2 separate regions of the Homo sapiens genome follow, and region 1 is linked to region 2. The links come from fine-mapping of genetic effects on gene expression. A gene starts in region 2. The other region holds a variant in brackets. All regions are shown on one strand. Distances are between the middles of the regions.

What was found.
Region 1: its variant is fine-mapped to the expression of TOM1 in whole blood (TOPMed, PIP 0.98).

What each region holds. Positions count from the first base shown.
Region 1 is chr22:35,322,616-35,337,680 of GRCh38, reverse strand. TOM1 (target of myb1 membrane trafficking protein) reads right to left here. Exons shown (of 15, transcript NM_005488.3): 4 at 14,504-14,653; 5 at 14,051-14,185; 6 at 13,767-13,913; 7 at 10,294-10,410; 8 at 7,201-7,334; 9 at 4,667-4,700; 10 at 4,184-4,277; 11 at 3,233-3,353. MIR3909 (microRNA 3909) reads right to left here and starts at 2,041; the gene lies at 1,923-2,041. MIR6069 (microRNA 6069) reads left to right here and starts at 882; the gene lies at 882-960. RefSeq lists enhancers at 1-866, 6,821-7,321, 8,811-9,105, 13,552-14,751. The variant C/T (reference allele first, on the strand shown) is at 8,859.
Region 2 is chr22:35,295,781-35,310,758 of GRCh38, reverse strand. It overlaps TOM1 (target of myb1 membrane trafficking protein), which reads right to left and starts at 10,865. Exons shown (of 15, transcript NM_005488.3): 1 at 10,779-10,865. The coding sequence starts at 10,830. HMGXB4 (HMG-box containing 4) reads right to left here. Exons shown (of 11, transcript NM_001003681.3): 11 at 14,952-14,978. RefSeq lists a silencer at 1,454-1,523 and enhancers at 9,200-9,721, 10,132-10,291, 10,245-10,767, 10,692-10,841, 10,768-11,290.

The DNA of each region.
Region 1 (15,065 bases), 27 kb before region 2:
GCATCACATTTAACTCTTGCAATACCAGCTTGCTTTCTGAGGAATGGAGTAGGCTGGCACTGAAAGGGGCTTCTTGAATATGACCCCCAGTTCCCACGCAGTCATTTTGAAGAGTGCTGCTGTCTGTTCCTTCCCACCAGGGGCAGAGTTTGCTGGTGGAGTGTGACCACTAGCTGGGGCATTCCCTGGTTACACGGCTCCCATCCATGGCAAGTGGGCCAGTGACTACGGCAGGGCCCTGCTGGAGCCAACCTTAAAGCCAGTGGCGGGGGAGGTGGGGCGTCAGGTTGCTGACTTCTGACCCAGAGAAGGCCTGCTAATTGAGGGTCTGGAGGTGCTTGTTGCTGTCTCTAAGACATGCTTGGCGCATTGTGGGCAAGGCTGAAGAAGCCATGCCCAGCCCCAGAACACGCAGAAACCCATGATTTCCCTTCACTCAAAACAACTATCTGGGCCAGGTGCAGTGGCTGAAATCCCAGCACTTTGGGAGGCCAAGGCGCGCGGATCACGAGGTCAGGAGATCGAGACCATGCTGGCTAACATGGTGAAACCCCGTCTCTACTAAAAATACAAAAAATTAGCCAGGTGTGGTGGTGGGCGCCTGTAGTCCCCAGCTACTCGGGAGGCTGAGGCAGGAGAATGGCGTGAACCCAGGAGGTGGAGCTTGCACTCTGCAAGCGCCACTGCACTCCAGCCTGAGAGACAGAGCGAGACTCCGGCTCAAAAAAAAAAAAAAAAGAACTATCTGCCCTTCCTAAGCTTAGCTCCTCGCCACCCCTGCCCACACATGGCCCTGAAGCCCAGCTGTCCCTGAAGGCCATGCCTGTGGTGGTGGAGGGCCAAGCACTTCCCTGGAGGAAGCCCGCACCTCCTGCACTGGGTGGTGACCCCTGGGCTAGGGCCTGCTGCCCCCTGCCCAGTGCAGGAGGGTGGAGGGTCACTCCTTAGGTGGTCCCAGTGGGGCTGGTGGGCAGGGGCTGCACCTGGGCCACTGGGGTGACACTTGTCTAAGTGCTCCTTGTAGAGAAGGCCTCTGTGTACAGCAGCACTGACGAAGATGCGGACAAAGCGGGGGAAGGACACCCCTGCCTTTGTGAAGGCCTAGCCGAGGCGTCTCTGCTGTGGCTCGCCCAGAAGCCCTGCTACTCCTTGGCATTGAGTGGATAGGACTGGCTGCAGGAAGGCTGTGACGGTGCCAGCTGTGGTCAAGGCTGGAGCAGAAACAGCGGCTGATAAGGAGCTGGTTTCCCTGCCAGCCAGGGCAGAGCTGGTTGCAGGCTGGTGTGAAGTGGGGAGCCAGGCAGGTACAGGGAGGAGCGGGCTGGACACCAAGCTGGCAGAAAAGGCCAGTCAGGTGACCAGAGCTGGAAGATCCACCAGAAGCATTTAAGGGGGCCAGCCAGGCAGGAGAACAAAGGGAAGACGAAATGGATGCTCAGGTCCACGCCTGACCTTGCTGGATGTTTTCTGCCAGGGTGGAAACCAAGCCCTGGGGAGGGCCTGCAGGAGAACCAATGGCCTGAGAAGGTGCATGATGTCATTTCAGCTGTGCTCAGCTGAAGGCAGTTTCAAAGATGAAAATCTGATAAGAAAAAAGATCCTTCCTGTGCTCCCTCCTGCTCATGTTAGAATAAAATCAACTGCCTCTCTGTAGCCCAGTGGGCCCCACCACCCTCTCAGCATCCTGCCCCCTTCCCTGTGTGAAGAGCATCTTTCCCAGCTGCTGTGCGGGAGCCAGGGCACCTCTCTCCCGCCCTGCCTCTGAGACTTTGCACATGCTGTTCCTAGTGCCTGAAATGGCCTTCCTATCACCCAGCACCTGGTCCAGCTCTGAGTACCCTCCGCAGAGTTGCATGCTCCCTCCTCTGTGTCCACAGAGCCTGGTGCCCCCTCCAGGACAGCACTTAGCCCTTCACAGCGGTGGTCCTGGTGCATGTCACTCTCCCATGAGACTGCAGGCCCTAGAGGACAAGTTCCTTGTGTGCTTTTCCCTGTCCCCCGGAGCCTGCTCCCCAGAGGAAGGACAGCGCAACAGCATACCTCAGCCAGGCTGGTGACCAGGGCAGGCGCCAGGGTTCTCCAGTATGGCCAGCAGTGTTGCCTGCTGGGGCCTCTGTGGATGGGCGTGTCTGGCTGCAAGTCCCATCACACTCATTAGCTTGCCTTTGCAGGGTAGCCTCGGCAGCACCCCTAACTCCATGGCAACAGCTGCTGGTCCCAGGGTACCTGGGCTTAAAAGTACAGACTCTGCCCAGACTAAAGAAAGATACAGCTAACAGCCAGGGCAGCCCTAAGGACCTAGCAGGCTACAGCCTGGACCTGGATTTGTGGGTGTGGAGAGGTTATCCCTGGGCTCTCTGGAGGCCCATTGACAAAGTTCCAAAAGACACCAGAATGACCTCTAAGGAGCTGAGTGGGGTCAGTGGGAAGATCCCATAATCTAGAACTTTCCTTAGCTATAAGAATCCTGGCTGCCCACAGCTCAGCCCTGGGGGTCACAGTGGGCAAAAGGCTGAAGAAAACATCAAGCAGACTGTTCCTCTTACAAGCCTGTACGGGGCCAGTTCTCCCGCAGGTCCCGGCAAGGGGTCAGACCCTGGTGGACACACTCAGGCCACGTGCCTATGCTGCTGAAAGTACCCCCTGAAAATGCACGGTGCACAGGGAAGGGCAGAGCCCCAGCTCTGGGGCAAGGCTGACAGAACCTGCTTAATCTTCTCTGGAAATTAACGGTGGCTATGGAACAACAGAAAAAGACTTGACTTGAAAGTCCCTGAGGATTTATCAGGAAACTTCCCTGCTCCTGGAGGGCTTACTATGCGGTACACAGTGCAGGGAGGGGGGCGGGGGGTGGAGACACTGTGTTTTGGAACCAGACAGCCCTAGGCTCCTAACCTAGTGCTGCCAAATATTAGCTCCTTGACCTGGGGCAAATGAGCCTGCCCCTCTCTGTGCCTCAGTTTCCCCCTCTGATCAGACTATGTAAGATTCTGGCATACAGTGGGTCATTAGGCTCCCCCTCCCCCACCCAGCATGGCCTGTGGGGAGCGCAGTCTGTCAACTGACCACAGGGCTCCCAGGCCATGCTGGACTGACTTAGGGGATACTAAGGGCGTGCTTACTAAGCAGGGTCCGTGTGCCCTTCCTCATGGTGTGCCACCATAAAACCGGGTTCCAGAACCCCGAGAGCCACCCGAACTGCAGGGGACCAGGGCAGGGCCAGGCCACTCACTCTTTCCGTTGGTCAGCCAGTGAGCTGCCCCGTGTCAGCGCAAACATGTCAAACTCATCTTCCAGTCGACCAGAGGCCTCCAGAGACTGCAGGCCAGCTCTCACACTGCTGGAGCCCAGGTCTGCAGGGACAGAAAGGCCACGTGAAAGACCCATCCACAAGCTTGTGTGTGAGCTGCTGCTGAGCTACCTGCTGCCAGACCCAGGGCTTGGTGCTGGGGAAGTGGCACGTGTGGGTGGGGGAATGCGCGAGGCAGGCCACCTGCTGCTGGCTGTGGGGCCTTGGGCAAGCGGCTTCCTCTTCCCAGCTTTAGTTTACTCACCCCTCTTGGGGCTGCTGTGAGCGTTAGAGAACAGTCAAAACGCTATCCATTGATTCTGCTGGGGAAGTGGCTGGGCAGGAGGACAGTAATCAGATGGGTAGTCGATTTTTTCAAAAAGTATAGCATTAGTGATGCAAAATGGGGTGCTAATGATTTCCTAGGGCTTGGCATGAAGCAGACAGTAAATTATATTAAAACCTATCACAGTGATAACAGTGACAATGGCCAACTACTCAGCCAGAGTGCAACCTGGGCCTGGCATGGTCTAAGCGCTTCTCATACACGAGCTCCCTACTCCTGTTAAAGAGGAGGAAAGAGAGGCTCAGGAGGTTTAAGGAACTTGCCCAAGCTCACGCAGATGATTGAAGCCATGGAGAATTCAGTGTAGAGGGCCAATCCTAGGATGGTAGGATTTCTGAGATCCAAGGCGGCTCAGGACTTGTGGGGCTGCCAGGGGCAGTGACCCCGAGTGCCCCACCTTGCAGCAAGATTCAGCCTGGGACCCCAGCAAGGTGGGGTCCAGACTGACACTCTGCTGTGGGTATATAACAAGGGCACCCCGAAAATCTGCAGGGGTGCCCACAGTACCATAATGTACCCTCAGCTGGAGCCCTCCAAACCACACTTACTCATTCCTGCCAGCTGGGATGAGAGGTTGCCGGTGGCTGCTGGGTCAGGGCCCATGTCGATCAGGTCAGCTGCCGGCTCGGCCTCACTTGGGGCCTGGTGGGAAGGGAGATGCCCTGATCATCCCCGCTGTCTGCAGCTTCGTTCCTTTCTGCCCCAAGCACTGTGGCTTGCAGGCTTTGCCCAGGGATCTGTCACCAGGGCCCCAGGAGCTAGGACTGGGCATCAGGGAATTTCCTTCCTCCCCTCTGGCTCCAGCTCAACTGGACTCCCTGGGAGGTTGGGGAGACCCTGGGGCATCAGGTGGTGGCACAGCCTTATTTACCTTAAAGGGACAGGGACATAAAAAGTTAGAAGGGGATTTCTCTATGGGCCTGGATAAGACAGCACCACCCTGTCCAGTTTACTAGGGGAGGGAGGTGAGAATGGCACTCCTTCTTCCCATGAACAGGGCCTGATCTAGTCACAGAAAAGAAGACTTTTACCTTGGTGGTCTGGCCTGTTCGGAACCGTTCAAACCTACAAGACAGAAAAGACACGAGTTATGGAGACAGACTGAGACAGGCCCCCACACACGGCCAGGCAGAGCTTTTCAAACTGTGGGTCTCAACATCAACACGGTGGGTTATGATCAGGGTGATGACACGTCTGGTGTGCCCTGGACAGATCCAGTTCATGCCTGCTGTCCCTGGGTAACTAGCAGTGCTCCTCTTTCCCTTGCAAAAGTGTCCCAATTTGGATGATCAATTATAAGGCAACCTTAGTCATGAGTAGCATGAAACAAATAAACAGGAATAGGTTAGAACAGCAAAGAAAATAGGAATGCATGGCACGCAGTAAAGGTAAGGACTGTCTTATGAAACTTGTTTCAATTACATATTTGTGTGTGTGTATGTGTGTGTGTGTGTGTGTGTTAGTGCTCTCTTCAGTGCTGTAAGAAAGATACATGTATCTCTAATCTTGTTTTATGGAGCTACTTAGGGGCCGGTGTGATAGATCGAGAAGACTTTAGTGTGGGGTCTGTTCAAGTCGTGGCCTTGTCACTTATCACATGACCTCGGGTAAATTATGTTCCTTCTGAACTTTAGTCTGCTTGTCTAGTATCTGTAGGCACCTGCCTCCCTGAAGTGCTGAAGCCCAAATTAGGACATGGGTATAAGTGACTGCGAGCTTGAAAGCACAGTCAGATATTAAGCCTAATGACTGTGGATATCTGAGGGTACCAGCTGCTACCAGATGGGGCCCCTCAGTCACCTCACAGCCCATACCCCAAAATGGCAGGGAAGAGGCCTTTCATTCCACTGGGCCAACGAGCAGGAGAAGCTAGGCAGACGTGACCTGCAGGGTACCCCCCACTTTCCACTGATTTAGAATCAATCAGTGAGTGTCTTTTGATGGAGAAAGACACAAAAAATGAACAAGGGGCTGGAGGAGGCTGGAATAACTCATGTCAGTTATCAGACACCCTGGACTGCTAAGCGCTTTACAGACACTGTTTCATGGACTCTCACTTATGCCACAAGCCTCATTTTACAGATACAGAGGAGGTGTGATGGGCACACAATTTCTGCAGACCCAGCAATCCTTCTCCTTCTCTTTCCTTTTTTTTTTTGAGATGGAGTCTTGCTCTGTCGCCTAGGCTGGAGTGCAGTGGTGCGATCTCGGCTCATTGCAACCTCTGCCTCCTGGGTTCAAGCAATTCTCCTGCCTCAGCCTCCCAAGTAAGCTGGGATTACAGGCACCCACCACCACCTCCGGCTAATTTTTTTGTATTTTTTAGTAGAGACGGGGTTTCACCATGTTGGCCTGGCTGGTTGCAAACTCCTGGCCTCAAGTGATCCTCCCGGCTCAGCCTCCCAAAGTGCTAGGATTACAGGTGTGAGCCACTGCGCCCAGCCCTTCTCCTTCTTTTGTAATAGCACCTAAGTACTCTTTAGAGGAACTGCTCCTCCCCCATTTCACATCATCCCGGTGGGGCTGCCATCAAAGGGCCCTCTCCCATACCCCAGCTGGTAGGCACAATGAAGCTCAGCCAATCCAAGTCTCTCTTGGGGATGTGACTCTTGAACAGAATGATACAAGGTGGGCAGGTGGGTGTGGTGGCTCATGCCTGTAATACCAATGCTTTCGGAGGCCAAGGAGGGAGGACTGCTTGAGGCCAAGAGTTTGAGACTAGCCTGGGCAACACAGTGAGACCCCTGTCTCTGCAAAAAGAAAAAAAAAAAAAGAAAAGAAAATTAGCTGGGTGTGGTGGTGCATGCCTGTAGTCCCGGCTACCTGGCAGGCTGAGGTGGGAGGACTGCTTGAGCCCAGGAGGTTGAGGCTGCAGTGAGCTGTGATCATGCCACTATACTCCAGCCTGGGTGACAGAGCAAGATCGTGCCTCAAAAAAAAAAAAAAAAAAAAGGTGGACAGGTGTTTGTGGACAAGTGTTTGAGCTGATGTATTTATTGATGGCAGCACCCTGGGGAGATGGTCCAGGAATTTCTGCTCCTGAGACATCTGAGCTGCCCTGGGATCCATCTTTCTTGTTCTGTTGGGAGACATCAGTTTCACTTTTCTCTGGATTCTGAAAGCTACCCATTTAATAAAGATTATTATCCTAACAAATTCTTTTTCTGCCTAAGTTAGCCAGAAATGTTTTGTGTAGCTTGCAGCAGTGAAGTCACTTGTCTAAGGCCCCAGAACCAGGAAGTGGTGGAGTGGGCGAGGACACACCAGGCCAGTCTGGTTGCAGGGCCGTGCTCTCAGCTGTGACCTGTGACCATCTCCCAGGGCTGGACTTGGGCACAGGCAGCAGCGCTAACCCTGGAAAGGAGATACAGGGCGGCTGGAAGGAGGGGCCCTCATAAACATCCTGGAAGAAGACAGCTGAGGGCACAGGCCCTTAGGAGCCTGCCTTGTGTTTGAGAGGAGGACGAGAGAAGGCTCAGATGGCATGAGACCAGGAGAACAGGGAGGAAGGGAAGGGAGAGGGTTGGGGCAGTAGGCCAGAGGCCAGGGGAGGTGCTGGGGCTACCGTTCATGGCGCAGGAACACATTGTTGAGATTGTCATTGACGATGAGCAGCTCCTCTGTCAGCTGCTCATTGGCGATCTGAGGGATGAGCTCCAGGACCCGCTGCTGCATGGCTCGGCACGTGCGGTTGAGCTCCTGCCAGGAAAGGAAGTGAGGCAACCACAGTCACATGACTCAGAGTGAGGCCGTCTCTTTTTTTTTTTGTGAGACGGAGCTCTGTCGCCCAGGCTGGAGTGCAGTGGTGCGATCTTGGCTCACTGCAAGCTGTGTCCTGGGTTCATGCCATTCTCCTGCCTCAGCCTCCCAAGTAGCTGGGACTACAGGCGTCTGCCACCACGCCTGGCTAATTTTTTTTTTTGTAGTTTTAGTAGAGACGGGGTTTCGCCATATTAGCCAGGGTGGTCTCGATCTCCTGACCTCACGATCTGCCTGCCTCGGCCTCCCAAAGTGCTGGGATTACAGGCGTGAGCCACCGCGCCTGGCCAAGTGAGGCCATCTCTAATGCACGGGCCTCCAGCCCCTGCACAAGCCTTGGAGGAGGGTGAGGTGCCCAAACTGGACTTCAAGGTTCCACGGAACAGCTTTTTGGGTTCTACAAACATGAACTTGAACTTCACTTCCAAGTGTTAGATGCTAAAATTTAATCCACAGGAAACCATCAACATGTCCAACTGTGCTGCCGGTTTAACTTGGCTTCGTGCAGATTCCAGAATAAAGGTTGTGCCACCATCTTTGCTTAGTCAAAAAAAAACTGAGTCTGCAAAGGGGGCTGGCTGAACAAACCACAACTTCTGGGGGTATGCTGTGATTTTTGCAACCAAAGCATACAGAATGAACTAGATGACTGCAACCATTAGCCACAAACCTCGATTTCGAGTTTTTGCCTCACTTTTCTCACTGCCTGATTTTTTGTCTTTTTAAACAAACTTTTAGCTTTGGAATAATTTTAGATTTACAGAAGAGATGCAAAGATAGTACCACAAGTTCCCATATACCCTTGACCCTGGCTTCCCCTTAGTCTGGCATTTGTCAAAACTGGTAAACTACCATTAAACATTAAAACTGGTAAAATACTATTAACTAAACTGCGGACTTTATTCAGGTTTCACTAGTTTTTCCTCTAATGTCCTTTGTTTGTTCTAGGATCCTACACTGCATTTAGTTATCACGTCACCGACTTTTAACCACTAGGTGTCATATTTAAACTTATGAAAAATAAAAAAAATGGCTACACCCGGTGGCTCGTGCCTATAATCCCAGCACTTGGGGAGGCCGAGGCGGGTGGATCACCTGAGGTCAGGAGTTCAAGACCAGCCTGGCCAACAAGGTGAAACCCTGTGTCTACTAATAATACAAAAATTAGCCGGGCATGGTGGTGTATGCCTATAATCCCAGCTGCTTGGAAGGCTGAGGCAGGAGAATAGCTTGAACCCAAGAGGCAGAGGCTGCGGTGAGCCGAGATCGCGCCACTGCACTCCAGCCTGGGTGACAGAGCAAGACTCCGTCTCAAAAAAAATAAAAAAATAAAAAACCATAGCCATATGGGTTTTCATTTTTAAGATTGGTCAATTATTTCTTCAGGTACCTGCCACCAGGTGAAGGTTCCTGGGTCACGGCAGGTGCCTGGGTCCTGAGGTCCAGGGAGCTGCCCGGCATTGC[C/T]GACTGTGGCCTCACGCCAGCACGCCTTTCTCCTGGAGGCAACGCTGAGGCTCGGCACTGCCCAGTGTTTATTTTGGCTGTCATGTGGACCCTGTCCCCTGCCCCCTCCAAGGTCAGGCCTCCGGGATTTCCTCATCGCCCTTAGCACGGGGACAGGGCGGGTGCCTTTCAACATCCTGTGGGCTCCCCTCCTGCTCTTATGACCAAGCACACGGTGGCTTTGCTTCTGCTTCCCTGCTGGCCCCTCTCAAGAGCAGAAGAGCAGCACTTGGAGCCAGGCCCCCGGGTTCAAATCGCAGCTCTGCTACTTACCAGCCATATAACCCTGGACGTGTTATCTGATCTCCCTATGCCTATTTCCTGACCTGGAAAATGGGGGTGGTCAGGATTACGTGAGCGATGTGAACCAAGTGTCCACATATAGCCCGGGACACGGGAAGTGCCCAGTGCATGGGAGCTGTCCCTGCATCCACCTTGCTCAGCCTTCTGAGTCCCCAGACTGCTCACATCTCATGGCCTTGGCTTGGGGCGTGCGAGGCTGCCTGCGCAGTCTTCTCTCTTTCGGAGCCCTTACTGGGTTTCAAGTTTGTGTATTCACTGGACTCTGAGGCTACTCCTTTTCTCCCCACCCTGCACCACCAAGTGAGGACCCCTGCAGAGTCAGCTCGGTCAGGCACACAGACACGGTGGCGAGGAAGACACAGCGCTGCCCTCAAGGAGCCTGAGGCCTGGTGGACGAGCAGTAGGAACTCGAACAGTTACACGAAGCGCTCTGTCTCCTCATGGATTCTGGTGACTCCTGGGCCTTGGGGATTCCTAGCTCTCTTGGTGCCTCTATGACTGGCCTCCATGGGGAGGGTGCTTTTTGCCAAATTCAGTGTCCCTTCTGCTCCAGTGACCCCCAATCTGGGCTGGGGCCGTGGGAATACCATGTGACACCCGGGAGCAGGAACCACTAGCTCCACCTGCCTTGGCTCCCCAAGATCAGTGGCTGGCGCATCTCAAGGCTGGCACCACCCTCTCACACCTGCCTGCTGAGTCTCGGATTCTGAATGGTGTAAATCTCACCTTCCAGCTTTTTCTCAGGACCCCTTACTGGGTGCTTTACTCTGTACCAGGCACAAGCCTGCGTGTTTTTCATGCAATACCTTATTTAACTCACATCAAACTTGTGCCATGAAGGCTATTGTTAGAGCAATCTTACAGATGAGGAAACTGAGGCCAGGGGGGCTACTTTGTTCAAACCAGAAAGTGGTAGAGCTGCGATCTGATTCCAATCTGATGGCGTCCAAAGTCCCTGGTGGTAACATGTCCCCAACTGTGACCAAGGAGTATGGAGTAAGCCATGAAGACTGTCATGAGGATTGGGAAAGAATGCATGTGGGCAGCTGGGCAGGAGTCATCTGAGCCCCAGGGGGTGGTGCCACCTGCTCACCTGCAGCAGCTCCAGGTCTGCGGGCTCGGCCTGGGTGGGCACCAGCTCCGTCAGCATCTCCGACATCACCCTCACGTTCCCACTCACCATCTCCAGCTCACTGCGCAGCTTCCCAATCTGAAACACACAGTTGATCGTGGTGAGAGAAGCCAGGGTTCTGGGGCCCATGTTACTCACAGCGACAGAACCCAGTACCACCAACCCTGGGTGCAGCACCAGGGAGCCGACCTCCCAGCAGCCTCTCTAGGCAGCCTCCCTCCTGGCTCCCAAAGTGACAGCTCTGCACTAGAGGCCTGCCCCACCCCTTCTACAGACCCCTCACAGAGGCGCTACCAACCGTTACCATCTCCACACCGGAATGAGCCACCACGTGTGGCTGGAAGACTCCAGCATCTCCTGGGTCTAACACAGCAGCTAACAAGGCCCTGGAGGGTGGCTCCCCACAAGGCGGGGAGGGACGCTGCAGGCCCTCTCTCTCTCTCCCACTAGAGGACTGGGATTCTGCCCTCTCTCTCTCCTCCTAGAGGACTGGGATTCCGCCCTCTCTCCTAGAAGACTGGGATCCCCCCCTCTCTCTCCTCCTAGAGGACTGGGATCCCACCCTCTCTCCTCCTAGAGGACTGGGATCCCGCCGTCTCTCTCCTCCTAGAGGACTGGGATCCCGCCCTCTCTCCTCCTAGAGGACTGGGATTCCGTCCTCTCTCTCTCCTCCTAGAGGACTGGGATTCCACCCTCTCTCTCCTCCTAGTGGACTGGGCTTCTGCCCTCTTTCTCCTCCTAGTGGACTGGGATTTTGTCCTGTTTCTGGTCTATTTTGGTGTCCCAGGCTCATCTAAGGATAGTCCTTGCCCTGTACCCCACCTTGAATATGAAACTCAGATTTAGCACTTGTTCCAAGGGATGTGGGCAGGTTTTCAATGGTCAAAGGGTTCCAAGGAGTTGGGCTTGGGGAAACATTTTCAATAAAGCTGCAGTCTCCTCAAAGAGGTTAGCTTGTGAAAGGCCATTGGTATAAGGATCTTATGCTGTGGGACCTTGTAGGGTGTTTAATGCCCTCATGCACACTGGGAATGCCTGGGAAAAGATCAGTCTGAAAGCTTCTAAGATTTATTTGACTGAAGAACCTTTTTATGTTTTGAGAAATGCTGGTACATTCTAAATCATGTGGCTGAGTTATAGTTGATTTCAGAGTGTCACTATATACATTCATGATTGTGACAGCAGCTACCATTTATAGACTACCTAATAAGTGCCAAGCATTGAACATATATTGCTAACTTAATTTTTTACCATGGTAGACATCAATATCCCTGCTTTTATAGATGAAGAAATGGAGTGTAGAGACTAGTAGTATATCCACTATGGTTCACTGACACCTTCCAAAACCTGCAAAATGTTTGATCTATTTGGCTTACTTAATGAACACTCTTGGTATGAGTGAGTGGAAAAACTACTGATCACAAACCCCATGTATCCAAATCAGATGGGACTTAATTACAGAGGAGTCTGGGAGTAACATCACTGCACACCTGATGTCTTAACATGTCCCAAGAGACAAAAGGGGACTCTCGAATTAAACAAAGATTAGTTTTGTTTAGCAAGCACCTTCTTGCATTGGAAGTAATTAGCGTCTTAATCCACACAGATGCTAGACTTCAGAAAATTGGTTAAAATCATAACTGAGTTAGACAATCACAAGGTGGTTTTACAATTTTTTACACACCTTTAACCCACTCAGAAAAAAAAAGTGCAGCTCGCTGTCAGCACTCATTTAATTTTACATAAACATGCTCTTTGAGGCTGAAGTAAACCTGACTGATTTTCAACATGAAAATAAAACATAAAAACTGTTCTTGGAGTTATTTCTAAACAGAACTTGTCTCCAATCCTAACGTAACAGAAATGTATATGAGGTTACATTAGGATTAGAGACAAGAGTATTCTTGGGGCAAACGGGCAGTGCGTTAATAATTTTGTCCAGTTAGCAAAATTTTCTAGTAATATCTGTAACTCTGAGGGGTGATTTCATAACTTGCTATGAGAAAACAAATCATGGAAGTTTCTCTTCAAATAGGTTAGGGTGAGAATGAGTTCAAATGATACAAAAAGTGGGCAGTGGGGACGCTTATTGGGAAAGTTAAGCTTCACTTTTCTTTCCATCACACATCCGTGTCTAACTCACCAGCACACTCAGCAGCTCCACCTTTACGCTCCGCGGATGTGATGGGCCTGATGTGTGTACAACACCTTTAACGTGGGTGTCTCCACAGTGTGCAGGCCTCTGCCCCCACCCCAGCAGCCAAAAGTCTAGAATGACAAGCCCCCAGCTCTACGAGCTGGTCATGGCTGTAGAAGTCACTCAGCAGATACAGCAGCCATGGCACTCCACAAGCAGCTCATGGCCCAGTGGGCCATGAGGAGGAAGGAAGTGACATGCCCAGGGTGCCACCTGCTCTGAGGTGGGTAATCCTTCAAAGCTAGTCAGAGGGCTGGGAAAACCTGTCCCCTAGAATCTCATACTAAGCCTCAAACCTTCTTGGCTGGGTGTGGTGGCTCATGCCTGTAATCCCAGCACTTTAGGAGGCCAAGACGAGTAGATCACTTGAGCTCAGGAGTTCGAGACTAGCCTGGCCAACATGATGAAACTCCATCTCTACTAAAAATACAAAAAATTAGCTGGGCATGGTGGCTCATGCCTGTAGTCCCAGCTACTCAGGAGGCTGAGGCAGGAGAATTGCTTGAACCTGGGAGAGAGAGGTTGCAGTGAGCCTAGATGGTGCCACTGCACTCCAGCCTGGGTGACAGAGCAAGACTGTTTCAGAACAAACAAAAAAGCTTCAGACCTTCTTGAGACTTCATGGGAAGCAGCATGGTACAATGTACATATGTTTTTTATTTTTTGCACAGATGTTTGAAAACTTTTCAGGCAGAACCTCTCTTCAAATGAAGCCTTTTTTTTTTTTTTTTTTTTTTTTGAAACAGGTCTCTCTATGTTGCCCAGCCTGGTCTCAAACTCCTGGGCTCAAGCCATCCTCCTGCCTGAACCTTTGAGAAGCTAAGATCACAGACGCACGTGACCATGCCCAGCTCAAATGAAAGCTGTGAGTGTGTAAGAAACCACACAGGTGGAGCTGGCCTGAAGGGGCTGCGTACAGGACACCTCTCCATGGTGCTGTTGGAGGGCCCCGCAGAAAACACAGGTTGGAAAATGGCCAAGGTACAGGGCAGTGCCTGCCAGGAGTCAGACAGACGTGAGCTTGGATCCCAACTGTCTCTGATGACTGTGTGCTCTGGGCAAGTGAATGGACCTCTCTGAGTCTCATCGCTCAAACAGGAAGAACCACACATACCCTGTGGGCTGCTGTGAGGAAGAAGTGGAGGCTCCGTGGATGGTAAATTCTGACAGGGGGCCCTCCCTGACGTGTGTGGCCCACCTGCCTGGACCTGACGGTTCTGACCCCAGGCTCGTTTACCTGTTCCGGGGTTGGTGCTATGGGCGTGTCACCGGAGAGTATGGGCGGGGCGGGCAGAGGGGCAGCATGCTGGCCAGAGTCCTCTTGCTGGCTGGAGTCAGTGCCCACAGAATCCTGTCCTGATTGTGTCTCTGAGTTGAACACGGTCTAGTGGGAGGAAAACAGGATCAGTGAGGGCTCCTGGGAACATCAAGAGCCCAGGAAGTCAGGGGCCAGCCTGGTGATGTCTCTGGGGATGAGTCCTGCCTCCCTTCCCTTGGTTCCCGGTACGGCAGTTCTCTCACCCTCTGGGGTGTGTGGATGGGTGACAGCATGTCCAGGTCAGTCATGGGGAACTCCAGGCCTTTCCTCCGCAGGTCCTCATAGATGGTGACCACACCTGTCAGATCGGGCGAGCTGCGGAACGCGTCAGCCCAGGACTGAGAGGGGACAAGGGGACACAGCCGGTAACCACAGCTCACCTGTGAGCCTGCCCACCTGGCACTCAGACAGAGAACAGACATTCTTTCCCTGCTTTTTTTTTTTTTTTAACTACATCTGCCCTGCCCACTCCACAGCAAAGCACGCAGTTGGCAAGCCTCCCTCCCCACAGAACATCCCACCAGCCGACAACCGAGACGCCCCGAAATGAGAAGCGGAGCCTGGGACAAACACGATGGCCTCGACTCTCCACTGGGCAGGAAGCTCCTGCACTGACAGCTCTTCCTGGCCGTGCCCTGCCCTGTCCTGGCACTCACCTGGATGAGGTTGAGCACTTTGTCATGCACGATGGTGGGTGGGTTGTTCTTGGGCAGGATGGTCCTCACCAGCACACTCTCCACGAAGTCCTGGCTGGCCACCAGCACGTGGAAGCGGTGCCCGCAGTTCTTGACACAGGTTTCTAAGACCTGGAGGGCCGAGAGGTGCCGTCGAGCACCTTGGTCAGAGGAGAGGAGGTGCTCAGAACCCCCACCCTCGTGGCTCCTCCTGTGTCCCAGAGAGGAGGCCCGGGAGAGGAGATGGGACTTCCTGGAGTGAGACCCTTGAATGTGGAGGACTGGGACAATGCCAGGACTGGGGGACTTGTTTACTGGAGGGCACGGCCTAGGGTGGGCAGAGGTATGGTGTGTGGGCTGGACTTCCTTCCCTGACTGGCGTCAGTGCACGCAGAATCCCAATGCTGTCTCTGAGCTAAACATGGTCTAGAGAGAAGGGGCTCTCCAAGAGGAAATCAAGGAGCATCTGAGATGTCAATCGACTGGTGAGCCTGTGGCCCAGGGAAAAGGCACTGAACTTCCCTCCCCACTCTCCACTTCCCAC
Region 2 (14,978 bases):
TGGGACCTGGGCCATGATAAACCTGCAGTACCTGTTTGCTGAATGACTGAATGAAAGATGAGGCTGTATTCACCAGCACAATAAACCTTTATAACAGTGTAAATGAAACACCTCCACACTTGGGCACTCATTGATCCCTTACTAGCTATTGTGTGGAAATCCTAATCCTTCTTCCAACTTGCAATCCTCTGAATACATTTTTTTTTTGAGACAGAGTCTCACTGTTGCCCAGGCTGGAGTGCAGTGGCACGATCTCGGCTCACTGCAACCTCCAACTACTGGGTTGAAGTTCACCTGCCTCACTCGGCCTCCCGAGTAGCTGGGACTACAGGCGTGTGCCACCATGCCCAGCTAATTTTTGTATTTTTAGTAGAGACAGGGTTTCACCACATTGGCCAGGATGGTCTCGATCTCTTGACCTCGTGATCCACCCGTCTTGGCCTCCCAAAGTGCTGGGATTACAGGCGTGAGCCACCGTGACCCTTTGAATACTTTTAAAAAGTACCACGTCCCTCCTTAATCTGTCCTCCAACATCCTCAGGACCTGTGACCACTCCACTCTGATAATGATCTCCAGAGCCTTCACCCTATTCTGACCGACCCCTCTGGATATAGGCCAGCCATGCTGTCCATCTGGAAATGCAGTGTGGGAACCCACACGCCACATTTACCTGTCCTTGCTAGATACTGTATTTCTATTACTGTACTCAGTGACTATGTGAAATTTTTATTAACCCTACCATGTGGAGCTGACTCCAATAGTTGTGGAAGATGCTCCCCCTGGGCTCACAGCATTTAGCTTTTCTAGACCCCCTTGCAGCCAGAAGTAGCCCTGGGACTTCTGGCCACAGAGATGGAAGCGGGTGTCTCTTGGGCGGCTCCTGGGGAAGGTTTTGCTTTCTTGGTAACAGAGACACAGACAGTTGGTACTTTCACCTGTGCTTCCTACCGTGAGAATGCAAGCACGAGGATGAAACCAATGTGGTCAAGAAGGTTAGGCAGAAATACAGAAGAAGCCACTACTGAACGAATTCATTCTAGATGGACACAGATGTTGTCACTCAAAGGGAAACCCAGCAGGTCTCTCAGTTCTCTCTCTTTTTTTTTTTTTTTTTGAGATGGAGTCTCACTCTGTTGCCCAGGCTGGAGTGCTGTGGCACGATCTTGGCTCACTGCAACTTCCGCCTCACCGGTTCAAGCGATTCTCCTGTCTCAGCCTCCAGGGTAGCTGGGATTACAGGCGCCCACCACCACATCCAGCTAATGTTTGTATTTTTAGTAAAGATGGGGTTTTACCATGTTGGCCAGGCTGGTCTTGAACTCCTGACCTCAGGCGATCTGCCTGTCTTGGCCTCCCAAAGTGCTGGGATTACAGGTGTGAGCCACTGCGCCTGGCCTCTTTCAGTTCTAAGGGGGAATCGGTGAGATGGAAAAGTTGGGAGGATGGGATGCAGACACAGACAAATCCTGCCCAGACTCCAGCACCTACCAGCTGTGTGAGCCTGGGTAACTCCTCGGCCTCTCTGTGCCTCAGTTCCTCCTCTACAGAATAAAGATGACCAAAGCACTCACCTTCCAGGGATGTGTGAGGAGGAGTGTATACATTTCAAGCACCAAAATAAATGCTATCCTCTACAAACATATCAACCACAACATGATTGAGAATTTCAAGCACCCCATAAGAGATTTTTAAATCACAAATATGCAGAAGCTATTTTTTTTTCAGCCAGAAACTTGTCTTGAAAACTATTTTCCAAAGGAATAACTCTTTCCAGACCCAGCGTGGAAAGTTCCATCCATCTCCTAATTTGCTGAGCCACCCTTCCTCAAAACCCTGGCTGCCTCTCCCCTGTATTTTTTTTAACCATAAACCACAAGAGAAACCCTAAAATACCTTACAGAGGGTATTGCTTCCGCAACCCACAATGTTAAAGTCGATGTAACTAACTATAGTACCTAACAAAAGGAAATGTCAGTGAGATAAAGAAAGGTTTTCTAAAACTCCCCAGGTAAGAAGTGAGGCTGTGAAGGCAGAGGCTTGAAGTGGCTGGCTGAGGTACAGATGGCATTTGTTTTCACTCCCCACTTGGGAGTGTAAAAGGTATTGCTGACAATCTGGATGGTCAGGGGTGGAGTGGGCTTTGTATTAGTCAGGGATCTCTAGAGAAAAGGAACTAGGCTGGCTGTGGTAGCTCATGCCCGTAATCCTAGCACTTTGAGAGGCCAAGGCGGGAGGATCACGAGGTCAGGAGTTCAAGACCAGCCTGGCCAACATGGTGAAACTCTGCCTCTACAAAAAATATAAAAATTAGCCAGGTGTGGTGGCACGCGCCTGTAGTCCCAGCTACTCAGGAGGCTGAGGCAGGAGAATTGCTTAAACCTGGGAGGTGGAGGTTACAGTGAGCCAAGACTGCCCCACTGCACTCCAGCCTGGGAAACAGAGTGAGACTCCGTCTCAAAAAAAAAAGAAAAAAAAAAAAAAAGAGAAAAGGAACTAGCAGAAAGAAAGAGAGAGAGAGAGAGACAGACACACACACACACACAGGAGAAAGAGCGAGCGCTTAAGGAATTGGCTTATGCAGGTGTGAAGGCTTAGCAAGTTGAAAATCTGTAGGGTGAGCTGGCAGGCTGGAGATCCAGGAAACAGATGCTGTCCAAGTGCAAGGACAAGGGGAGCCTGCTGGCCAAGTTCCCTCTTGTTCTGGGGAGGTCAGTCTTTTTCCTATTCAGGCCTTCAACTGATTGGACGAGGCCCACCCATGTTATTGAGGGCAATACGCTTTACGCGGGTCTGGTGATTTAAATGTTAATCTCATCTAAGGCATACGTTCACAGAAACATCTAAAATAATGTTTGACCAACTATCTTTCTCCCCTGGCCTAGCCAAGTTGACACATAAAGTTAACCACTACAGGGTTTATACTGCACCAACACAAACAAGTTCAAACAGTAGACCCCTCTGTCTGTCCCTAAATTCTCTGTCTGTCTCAGCCCCTGTGGTCTGGCTGGTTCTTCTCTCCCCCTCCCTTCTCCCCTGGCTCCGTCCTTCCCTTCTGGGAAGACTCCAGGCTCCGTCCTTCCCTTCTCTACCTTCCCCAGCAGGAGCGAGGCCCAGTTCCCCTCCTCAGGGCTTGCACAGTGGTTCTCCACCGCACTTTGCAGTGCTCTATCAACTTCTAAGTTTCCCGTGTCCCTTGAGGAGGAGACCTGGGGGACACAGCCGGGAAGGGGCGGAGCTGGCACCTGAACCCAGCTCTTCTGATGCGGAGACTAAGCTGTGACCCCATTTCAGGCTGCTTACGTCCCAGTGATCAAAATGAGCTACCTGGGATCATGCCAGGTGGGCTCATGGGCAAACTTAAAGACATTTTTAGAGGGACATTAAATTTTTCCTCTCCTGCATTATTTACTTTAATGCAGGATAGGAAAAAAACACGAACATCAAAGCCATGATTTCATGGATATAATTATATAGGATGAGGTCAAATTTTAACAGATAAGCTAATGAAAAGAAAACCCTACGAAAATAATAATGAAGGTGGCATGGGGGTAGACACAAATCACAAATGAGCTACATGAAAGACAGAAGTTTGGAGGGCACTGGCCTAGATCAAGATCTCCTTAGTAAGGCAGTAAAGAGTTAAACTGTCCTGAATCCCCCTGCTTCTCATGGGGTGATGGCCTCAAGCTAATTAGGAGACACTGAGGGTTTGGGTTTTTTTTTTTCTAAAACCAGAAGAGTGGAAGTCTGGGACTATACTCTTATTTCTTTGAGCTCACTAAGGGAATAAAACCTATTCACCAGTTCTATCCATAGGGGAAGGCAAAGGCCTTAATTTCCAAGTAAGAATCTGCTCCTCCCCACAGCCTGAAACCTGACCTGTCTGTGAATGTGGTGGCCACCCAGCCAGTGACCGCTCATTTGCCAGGGACACAAAGACCATCACAAAGGCTGCACTGGAGTCAGAATCTTGGGCTGGCACTTAGCTTGGCTACTAACTTAGACTGGGTCCCAGGAATGATAACACCAGTGAAAAATCACAACAGCTAATAATTACAGAGACTTCCTGTCTGGCAGGAAGTGCTTTATAGCACAACAACACGACAGCCCTATCTGATAGGTGCTATTATTATCCTCATTGTACAGACGAGGACATTGAAGAACAGAGAGGTTAAGTAACTTGCTCCTGGTAACAAAGCTGTTGAGGACTGAACCAGGACTCAGACCATTCAGTCTGACTCAAGCTCACCCTGGGCTCTACTAATATGTGTACAGCTGATACAAAGCCCTTTCTAGACAAAGCTCTGTCATCCTCAAGACAGAAACTTGGGGATCTAATGTGGGTCCTGTACTTACGGATCAGGAAACAGAAGCTTCAAGATATTAGGGCTCACATGGGCACACTGTGGGGATAAGCACCCTCAAGCATCCCCAGTGTGGGTGCTCTGGTACCCCACTTTGAGGAACAGTGTGCTCCATCATTCTGCCTCTGGCCAGCTGCTCCGATTCAGAAGTCAGCAAACTATGAACCCATATGCCAAATTCAGTCTGTTTTGTATGGTACTCGAGCTACAGATGGTCTTTATATTTTTAAATAGTTGGGAAAAAAAAAAGCTGAAGAAGAATAATATTTCATGATATGTGAAAATTACGTGAAATTCAAATTTCATTGCCCATAAATATTTTTATTTATGCACAGTCATTCTCATTCATTTACCTATGGCCTATGTAGCTGCTTTTGTGCTATAATGGCAGAACTGGGTAGTTGCAGCAGAGACCATCTGGTTCACGAAGCCACAAGTATTTACTATCTGGCCCTTTATAGAAAAAGCTCACTGACCCTGGTCTAGTCTGCTAACCAACACAGGAATCCTCTTTATAGTCGCCCTCCCCACCCCGGCTTCTGCCTTCACAGCTCCAGTGGTGGGGAGCTCACTACTGAACAAGGCAGCCAGTTCCATCTTTGCAAGGCTCTGGGGATAGCTATTTATACTGAAACCGAACTGCTTATTCCTGTAACCACACACCATGCCCTTGGAGCCCTGCACATTCAGTTCTATCAGTCCTCCCCAGCACCCATCAGTTTTTTTTTTTTTTTTGAGATTGAGTCTCACTCTGTCACCAGGCTAGAGTGCAGCGGCGTGATCTTGGCTCACTGCAACCTTCGCCTCCCAGGTTCAAGTAATTTTCCTGCCTCAGCCTCCCAAGTTGCTGGGACTACAGGCGTGTGCCACCACGTCCAGCTAATTTTTGTATTTTTAGTAGAGACAGGGTTTCACCATGTTGGCCAGGATGGTCTCAATTTCTTGACCTCGTGATCCACCCGCCTCGGCCTCCCAACGTGCTGGGATTACAGGCGTGAGCCACCGTGCCTGGCCCGCCATCAGTTTCTTTCTTCCCTCTGGCATCAACCCTTCCCTGTCCCTATATATGACCTCTGTCGTTCCTTACCAATCCTCTGGGAAGCAGAGGGAGAATGACAGCACCTCTGTGTTGCCAATAGGGGAGATGGGCAATGGAGAGGGACCGTGACATAGTTAGGAGCAGAACCAGAGCTGGAACCAGGTGTCCCGCCTCCCAGCCTGGTGTCTCCTCAACATCGCTTAAGTGTCCACTTTCCAGCCCATCATTCCCCAACTGGCCCCCAAGGGCCTGAAGTGGTCTCTCACTTCTGTGATTCCTTCCTGTGGCTCCCCCGGCTTGGCTTTTGTGGATTCAAAGACAGCTCTCTCTGACTTTTTCACTTTTCCCCTCCAGGGCTCAGTCTTCAGGCTCTGGGCTCTTCTCCCCTCACACCCAGCTCCCACCACCCCAACCACTGAGGCTCATCCCCAGGGACTGCCCATATTTACCATCTCTGTTGTTTGCAACTTACTGTTGGCAATCAGCTAGGATTTGGACTCCAAGTGCTTAGGGGTAAGCTGACAGCCAGAAATGGAAAATGGGTTTCTTGATATCTGTCTATAAAACAGAGCCAGTAGGCCGGGTGCAGTGGCTCACGCCTGTAATCCCAGCACTTTGGGAGGCCGAGGTGGGTGGTTCATGAGGTCAGGAGATCGAGACCATCCTGGCTAACACGGTGAAACCCCGTCTCTACTAAAAATACAAAAAATTAGCCAGGTGTGGTGGCGGGTGCCTGTAGTCCCAGCTACTTGGGAGGCTGAGGCAGGAGAATGGCGTGAACCCGGGAGGTGGAGCTTGCAGTGAGCCGAGATCGCGCCACTGCACTCCCGCCTGGGCGACAGAGTGAGACTCTGTCTCATAAAAAACAAAAAACAAAAAACAAAACAGATCCAGTAAGATTTGTCTGCAGAGAATATCTGGAAAGGGTTTGAAATCCTTGAAAGAAGAGGGCTGTGACAACACCAGCTGGTACAAAGGATCTGGAATCCTCTCAGCTACGGGTGCTGCCCTTGGGAAGCTCCCCTACTCATCGATGAGGGGAGGGGCCTGCAAGTGTGAGACCCATGTACATGTCCTTATCTGAGGGTAGAATAAGAGTTGTGGCTCTTGGAGGGTGGGACAGACATCAATTCAAAAGAAGCACTGGGCAGCTCGAGGCAGTGTGGTGAGGGTACAAAAGAAGACCTGGGTCTGGATTCTGACCTTGAGTGGCTGTGGAACCCTGGAAAGCGATGCTTTCTCTTAGACTGACTTTTGGTGAAATGGGAAAAAAATAGCAAAACCGCACAGGGTCACCATGAGATTAATACCCAGGACGCTAGCAGAATACCTGGCAGAGTTATTATGGTGTTTGCTCACAAAATGTTACTTTCCTTTTCTCCCTTCCTCCTTCCTGCTATGTGCCAGGCACCGTGCTAGGTGCTGAGGGTCTGGAGAAATAAGGCACAGTTCCTGCTCTCAAGAGGTTCAGCCTAGCTGTGGAGACAGACATGCACAACCACTAACAGAGTGGGACGGTGGCATATTAGTATAATGAGGGTAGAAATAATAAAAATAAGCCAAGCGTGGTGGCTCACACCTGCAATCCCAGCACTTTGGGAGGCTAAGGTGGCTGGATCACTTGAGGTCAGGAGTTCAAGACCAGCTTGGCTAACATGGTGAAACCCCATCTCTACTAAAAATACAAAAATTAGCCGGGCATGGTGGTGTGCACCTCTAATCCCAGCTACTCGGGAGGCTGAGGCAGGAGAATCACTTGAACCTGGGGGGCAGAGGTTGCAGTGAGCTGAGGCTGTGCCACTGCATTCCAGCCTTTTTTGAGACTCTGTCTCAAAAAAAAAAAAAAAAAAGAAATAATAAAAATGATGATGGTGATGATGACAGGAAGAGCTAATGTTTCCATACACTCACACTGTGCGAGACACTCTCAGAGGACTATCTTGTTTCATTCCAGCAACCACCCTGTGAGGCAGATGCTGTTAGTAACATTCTACCAAGGAGGAAGCGGAGATTCAGAGCCCAAAGTCATAGGGCAAGGGGGCCTGAGGATCTAGGATAAAGGGAGAGTAAAAGAGCAACGTCGGGCTTGGGGCAAGCCTCAGGGAGGAGGTGATGATGCCCTGTACTTTGAAGGGTGATCTGGAGCTCCTCAGTGGGGGCACAGGAGCAAGCAACCCAGGCAGAGGGACCAGCAAGCACAAAGGGGTGTGTGTGTGTGTGTGTTGGGAGGGGAGGTGGATGAGAACTTTGTGATTCCAGTGACTGACACTCATTCCTGATTAGCATCATTAGAATCACCATCTGAGGGATGTCAATTCCATATGGCTCTACAGCTCTACTATCAACAAGGGCATGGGAGTCGGCAGGCTTGAGAAGAGATGGTACTCCTGCAGCAAGGAGGGGCCTGGTTTACAGAATTATAAGCAGCTATACTGTGTCATCAGTAATCACAGCCAGGGAGCAGTACTTCCTCCGCCTCTTTATCTAAAAGAATATGGAATACTGAGGGGATTAACTCAAACTCTTAATTCTACTTTTGGAGCCTCTTCAGCTTTGGTTTAAATTTCAATGACTCAGTTTTGCTGTCAATTTACTGGGGTCTTGGATGAGTCACAGCCTCCACTTTCCCCTCTCTGGACCTTAGTCTCCGCCAGTGTAAAATGAAGGGGATGGGCTGGAACAGCATTAGCATTACCCGGGAACTCAACAGAAATTCACATTCTAGGCCGGACACGGTGGTCATGCCTGTAATCCCAGTACTTTGGGAGGCTGAGGTGGGTGGGTCACCTGTTCAGGTTTGAGACCAGCCTGGCCAACATGGAGAAACCCCATCTCTATTAAAAATACAAAATTAGTCGGGTGTGGCGGAGCGTGCCTGTAATCCCGGCTACCTTGGGAGGCTGAGGCAGGAGAATCGCTTGAACCCGGGAGGCGGAAGTTGCAGTGAGCCAAGATGGTGCCATTGCACCCCAGCCTGGGCAACAAGAGCGAAACGCAGTCTCAAAAAAAAAAAAAAAAAAAAAAGAAAAAGAAAAAGAAAAAGAAAAAAAAAGAAATTCACATTCTAGAGTCCCACCGCAGACCTGGAGAGTCAGAAACTCTGGGGTTGGGGCCCCGACATTATTTAACAAGCCCTCCTAGGAATTCTGATGAGAACCACTGGGTTAGAAGATCCCCAAGGTAAGGCTCTTTTACCTGCAAAATTCCATTTGTGCTTTAAGGTATTATGATTTAGTAGCATTCTCTTTGCACAGAAGTATTTCTTGCCCAAGAAAGGCAACGCTTCAAGGTAAGAAGAGAAGTTTGCTTTGATTAGCTGAAATCCAGAACCCAGGTGAGCTTTTCCAGAAAGCCTTAAGAGTATGTGGCTGACTTTGAAGCCAGGTCTTTTATTTACTTGTTTATTTTTAAGTAGTAAGTCTTAAACTTGGCATGTGATAAAAGCAGTGGTTTCTGTAGTCAGAGAAATATAGATGAGAGGAGAGCTGCCTTCTCTTTTCAGCTCCAAAAAACCATGACTCACTGTGGGGTGGGTGTGTGTCCGGGGAGGGCAGGGGTCCTTTGAGAGGGCAGTTCCTCTCCCTGGTTCAGGAGCTTCCTGGTGTGTAAATCCTGGACTGCCACCTCCCCCTTGGAGAGCATTGATTACAAAACCTCGGAAGAGCCACCGACAGCCACGGTGGCGATTACAACACAGAGCCGGGTCGACAAGCTTTCGTGAGGTTTCGCAAGACACTAAGAATGGAAAATATGTCTCATCTTAAAGTTTTCCCAGTCTGGACTTAAGACGAAAAGTCGTCATCAAAAAAGATGAAGAGTAATTTCACGGTAATGCGATGGTTTCTTCATGCAAGAATGCGGAACACCCAAACCATCCTCCGGAGAAGTGTGGCTGTTTGGGTGAAGGCATGTCGGTTCTCATGGTGTTGGTGCCCAAGAATGAGCACCTATGAGATCTACTGCCAAGCGATTTCCAGGGATTCCTAACCTTCACTTGGTGATCTCAGGAACAACGTGTGTGTGTAAATACATATAATATATATGTATGTGTATGTATATGTATGTTTGTATGTGTATATTTTTATATATATGTGTGCGTGTGTGTGTGTGTATGTGTATGTGTTTCAAGAGATGGGCTCTCCCTGCGTCGTCCAGGCTGGAGTACAGTGGCGCCATCAGGGCTCACTGCAGCCCTGACCTCCCAGATCCAATAAATCCTCCCAGCTCTGCCTACCGAGTGGCTGGGTGCACAGGCACGCACCACCACGCCCGGCTAATTTCTGTATTTTTTTTTTTTTTTTTTTTTGTAGAGACGGGGTCTCGCCATGTTGCCCAGGCTGGTCTCGAACTCCTGGGCTCAAGCGATCTGCCCGCCTTGGCCTCCCAAAGTGCTGGGATTACAGGCGGGAGCCACCGTGCCCAGCCCAGTGATAATAAATATTACAACTGTTTTTTTTTATATGGCACTGGCCATGTACCAGGCATTGTTCTAAGTATTTCACATTTATTAAGGAATTTAATCTTCACAACAAGCCCACGGAGGTGGGGACCATTATTGCCCGCCAACTACAGGTGAGGAAACCTCGGCCCAGGGAGGCTGCGTCACAGAACTGTGAGTATCCTGTCACCAGGGTGCAGAGAACCACGGACCAGCAGACAGGCGCCAGGTGCCCTGGGCTTGGCTTGGCCCGAGTTCCCGGCTGCCCCACCTACGGAGCACCGAGATGGGCTGACCAGGAGGGTTTGTCCGACCACTGTCTGCTCAGGTTCTGAGAGTCTGTGCGGGTCCATTTGAGGTTGGGTCGAGAAAAGAGCCCAGGCGGACACGTCCTGAGACCCGGGTCTGTGAGGCCTGGCCGCGGGCTGTCCGGCGCTGGGCCCCTCTGGCCAGTTGGCCCCAAGACGCCAAGCCCGGGGCTTCGCGGTCCTGGGAGAAGGGACTTCTAGCCCTTCTCAGGTGTCTGTGTCCGGAGGGCCCGGTGAGCCAGGAAGGAGCTGGCCAGAGCCCAGGCGGCGGGACCCAGCAGAGTGGCCCAGCCACTGCCAACCACGCAGTCCCTTTAACCACGAAAACTTTCTCCCTCGATTGGGGACCCCAGCAGACGCACATTGGCTGCGCCGTGGGCATCCGGACCCACCCTCTCTCCTTACCTACTGGCTGTCATATACATCTATCACAAGCCAAGGCTTCCTAATGGCCCAAGTTCTTGTCAATCAAGAGTGGGAGGAAAGCTGGGCGGAGCCAGGTCGGAGAGCTACACGCCAGCCTCCTTGCCCTCCCTGCCTCCGTGACTAGGCACCCGGAGGCTTCCCAGGGGACCGAAGCTGGGTGCGGAGCACCGGGGCGGAGCTGTGGGGGGCTCCAGGGACTCACCGATGCGCTGTCCCACTGGAGAGCTGAACGGGTTCCCCAGGAGAAAGTCCATTGCTGCTACCGCCGCTGCCACCAACCCCGGGAATCAGCTGACAGCAACCGCCAGCGCCACCGACCCGTCACGTGACGCACTCGGAGGCCGGCGAGGAGGCGTGGGCGGGGCGGTGGCACCGCGAAGCTCGACCACAAGCCCCGCCCTGAGACGCCAGGGTCCCGCCCCCGAGGCGGAGGGCGATGACCTCACTGCGGCTTGCTCGGCGGCGGCGGGCGTCACACACGATGTAGGGTCTGGGGTCGGGGCCCGGGAAGCGCGGTCCTCTTTAAGCCACGCCCCTGACCTTTTAGGGCGAGGTCTAAAGGACCCTTTACACATTTGGGAAACTGGGTCGTAGACCAGGGAAGTGACTTGGGTGAGTTACACAGAAGCCGAGACTCTTAGGGTCATAGCCCTTAGTCCTTGGGACCTCACTGTGACTGCACACCTACCCTGGGTGACAGCCTCTCTGGGCTGTTGTCTCCTTGTCCCGGTAAGACTCTTCCTGTTTGATGTCAAGGTCTCCCCGCTCCAAGATGCACCCTGCTCGCAGCCCAAATTATCTTACCTTAAATCAGAGGCAAGGGCAAGGGGTTTGTCATCTGTTGAGACTGAGAGGCAATTTAATGAATTGCAGCGCAATTCCCTCTAGCGCCCAGGATGGCAAAAAGCACAGATGTAGTCACGAGTGGGGCTTTAATACCCGTCTCTGCCATAAATTTACTGTGTGAGCCAAACATAGCTCCCATTTTCTCTAGATACTGGAATTAGATCAAGGACTCGTAACCATTTTTAAAAAATATTTTATTTAGGTCACAGTCTCCTTTGAGAATTTGACAAAAGCCATGAGCCTTTCTGAAGAAAAAAGGCAGCGATACAATTTTGCTTATAACCTCAGGGAGTTTCTGGGGTCCCTGAAGTACAACCGTGGACCCCAAGCTAAGAATCTCAAAGGCCTTTCCCAGCGTTGTGATTCTAATCTCTTCAGCCTTCCTGGCTGTGTGTGGTGTGTCTGCTGACACCTACACACTAGATACCTATCTATGGGTTATGACCTTTTCTTCTGGCATGTACTCCAAAAATACAATAACCATGGCCTTAGTAGTCTGGCTACTGTGGGTGCTTAAGTACTTATTGTGATGTTTGTGGTTTTTAAATCTGAAAGGCTAGTAAATTGACTGCACAAATTTTGGATGACAGAAAACCTAAATTAAGCAAGGTGTGGTGGCTCACGCCTGTAATCCCAACATTTTGGGAGGCTGAGGCAGGTGGATCACCTGAGGTCAGGCATTCAAAACAAGCCTAGCCAACATGGTAAAATGCCGTCTCTACTAAAAATACAAAAATTAGCCAGGTGTGGTGGTACACGCCTGTAGTCCCAGCTACTTGGGAGGCTGAGGCATGAGAATTGCTTGGACCCAGGGGGGCAGAGATTGCAGTGAGCTGAGATCGTGCCACTGCACTCCAGCCTGGGTGACAGAGTAAGGCTGTGTCTTAAAAAAAAAAACAAACCTAAATTAGAACTTAATCACCTCTGTAGATTCACTTGTTTGAGCAGCCATGGGGTCCGATGTCTTTACTGTACAATATAAAAACTGCTTTGAAGTGTTTCCACAACACTCATGAGACCTGTTCACAAATGCCTTTGCCCCCACGAGTCTGGATGTCCCTGGGGGCTGGGCTACTATTTCTGTTTTGCTCCCCACTATTGTCTAACCCAGTAACTAGCACATGAAAGCTTAAATAGATCTACGTTTCAGTAATGGTATTTGGAGTATAAGCGGGGAGAAGGCCATTTAAGATGACCTTCAGGTCAAGGCACTTTCCATGTCTTTCTTCACTTAACCTTATTGCTTGGTCATATGGAGTTATGTTTAGCATGAACTTCTTTTGGATTCTTCCATTAACCTTTATTTATTTATTTTTAGAGGCAAAGTCTCACTATGTTGCCCAGGCTGGTCCTTGAACTTCTGAGCTCAAGTGATCCTCCCACCTCAGCCTCCCAAAGCCCTGGGTTACAGGCATGAGCCACCATCTCTGGCCCTTCCTTTAAGCTTTTAACAAGTTCTTGTAAACTTTATTCATGGTAAAAAAAAAAAAAAAAAAAAACAAAAAAAAACAAAAACAGAGACAACTCATATGCCCCCAAACAGGAAGTGGAATCATAAACTCCATGCAGGCTGGGCACGGTGGCTCACACCTGTAATCACAGCACTTTGGGAGACCCAGGCAGGCAGATCACGAAGTCAGGAGATCAAGACCATCCTGGCTAACACGGTGAAACCCCATCTCTACTAAAAAAATAGAAAAAATTAGCTGGGCGTGGTGGTGGGCGCCGTGGTGGGCGCCTGTAGTCCCAGCTACTCGGGAGGCTGAGGCAGGAGAATGGCGTGAACCTGGTAGGCGGAGCTTGCAGTGAGCAGAGATTGCACCACTGCACTCCAGCCTGGGAGACAGAGCGAGACTCCGTCTCAAAAAAAAAAAGAAAAACAACTCCATGCAAACTGATTACTATATAGCTATTGAAACAGAAATGGAAGTATATGGATTTATTTATTTATTTATTTTTAAAGACAGAGTCTCTGTCACCCAGGCTGGCGTACAGTGGTACAACTGTAGCTCACCGTAGCCCTGATCTCCTGGGCTCAAGTGTCTTCCCACTTCAGCCTCTTGAGTAGGTGGGACTGCAGATGCATGCCACCATACCTGGCTAATATCTTTTAGTTTTTGTAGAGATGGGGTTTTGCTATATTCTCCAGGCTGGTCTCAAACACCTGGCCACAAATGATCCTCCTGACTTAGTCTCCCAAAGTGCTGGGATTACAGACACGAGCCACTGCACCTGGCCAGTATATGGATTTTATCAACATAGTAGATAGGGATGTAAATGGCAAACATTAAAGTTAGTACAAAACTGATTAAAACTGTCTTTAAAAAGTGTGCTAATAAGGAGCAAACTGATTTAGTAAAAAGTGTTTCAATTTACTTTTTAAGTGTTTTAGTAAAATTAATATCATGCCTTACTGAGGGTTAAAATGTTCAAATTTCTTAAGATTGACAGTCTGCATAAATGTAATCTATTAAATCCTTTAAGTGCTTACAGACAAAAATCAAGATACCTTGCCTTCAAAATTTAAAGACAATAGTATGACAAGAGTGAAAGCCAGCTAGATACCCGAACAATGCAAAGATCTGAGACAGCATTCCCACAATCACATTCGCTCAGGACTTGAGATAATGGAAAGCATTCTGATGAATTATAGACATGATTTAAATCTGAAAGTAGCTTGGGGTAGAAAAGAGCCTAGGGTTTGGGGTCAGCTGTTTCACTGTTCTTAATCTGCCTTTGCCATTTACTAGCAGTATAAACTTAGGAAAAGTACTTTTTCGCATCTATAAAGGGAGATAATATTCTTAAGGCTTTGGGCGGAGGATGAGTGAGACAAAGTATGCAAATCACTCTAATAGTCACTCAGTGATACGGTAGTCTCTTCCTTGCTGCCTTTCCATAAGACATTAGCCTTGTAATTAATCATATTATTTTACTATTTATGACTTTTAACACCTTGTGTTTGCACTGAAGTTTTTACCTTGAAAGGTCATATCTCCATATATTCAGTGTTCATAATGTTATTAAACATTCATGTCAGGCTGGCTGGCTGCAGGTCTACAGACAGGGAAGTGACTTTAACACTATTCTATAGATGGGACTTTGGAAGCCTATAAAGATTAAGTAACTTATCAACAGCATTACTGTAATGCTAACAGGACAGTACTGAAACATATCATTTAGCACATGATTCAGATGCAACCCTTATATAAGATTAATCAACATTTTCTTGATTTAGGCCAACACCATAATGCACATAGTTTCATTTGCCAATAAATGGAGGTGGAATTATCAGATTCACTAAATTTGCAATTTGCAAAAGAGAAAATGAGAACCTCTACAATGTAAAAGTTAATAGAAGCAGAGTAAGGAGTATATTAAGAAAATGGCTAAGATTAGAAATTTAATCTCCATTGTGGGTTGATTTTTTTCTTAAGAAAATTATGGTAGAATAGAGTGAAAAACAGGTTTTATAATTTCATAGCAACTATGATGATCATGATTAGGGAAAAGACAGCTGAGACTGGACTACAAATATTAAAAATGTGATTTTTAA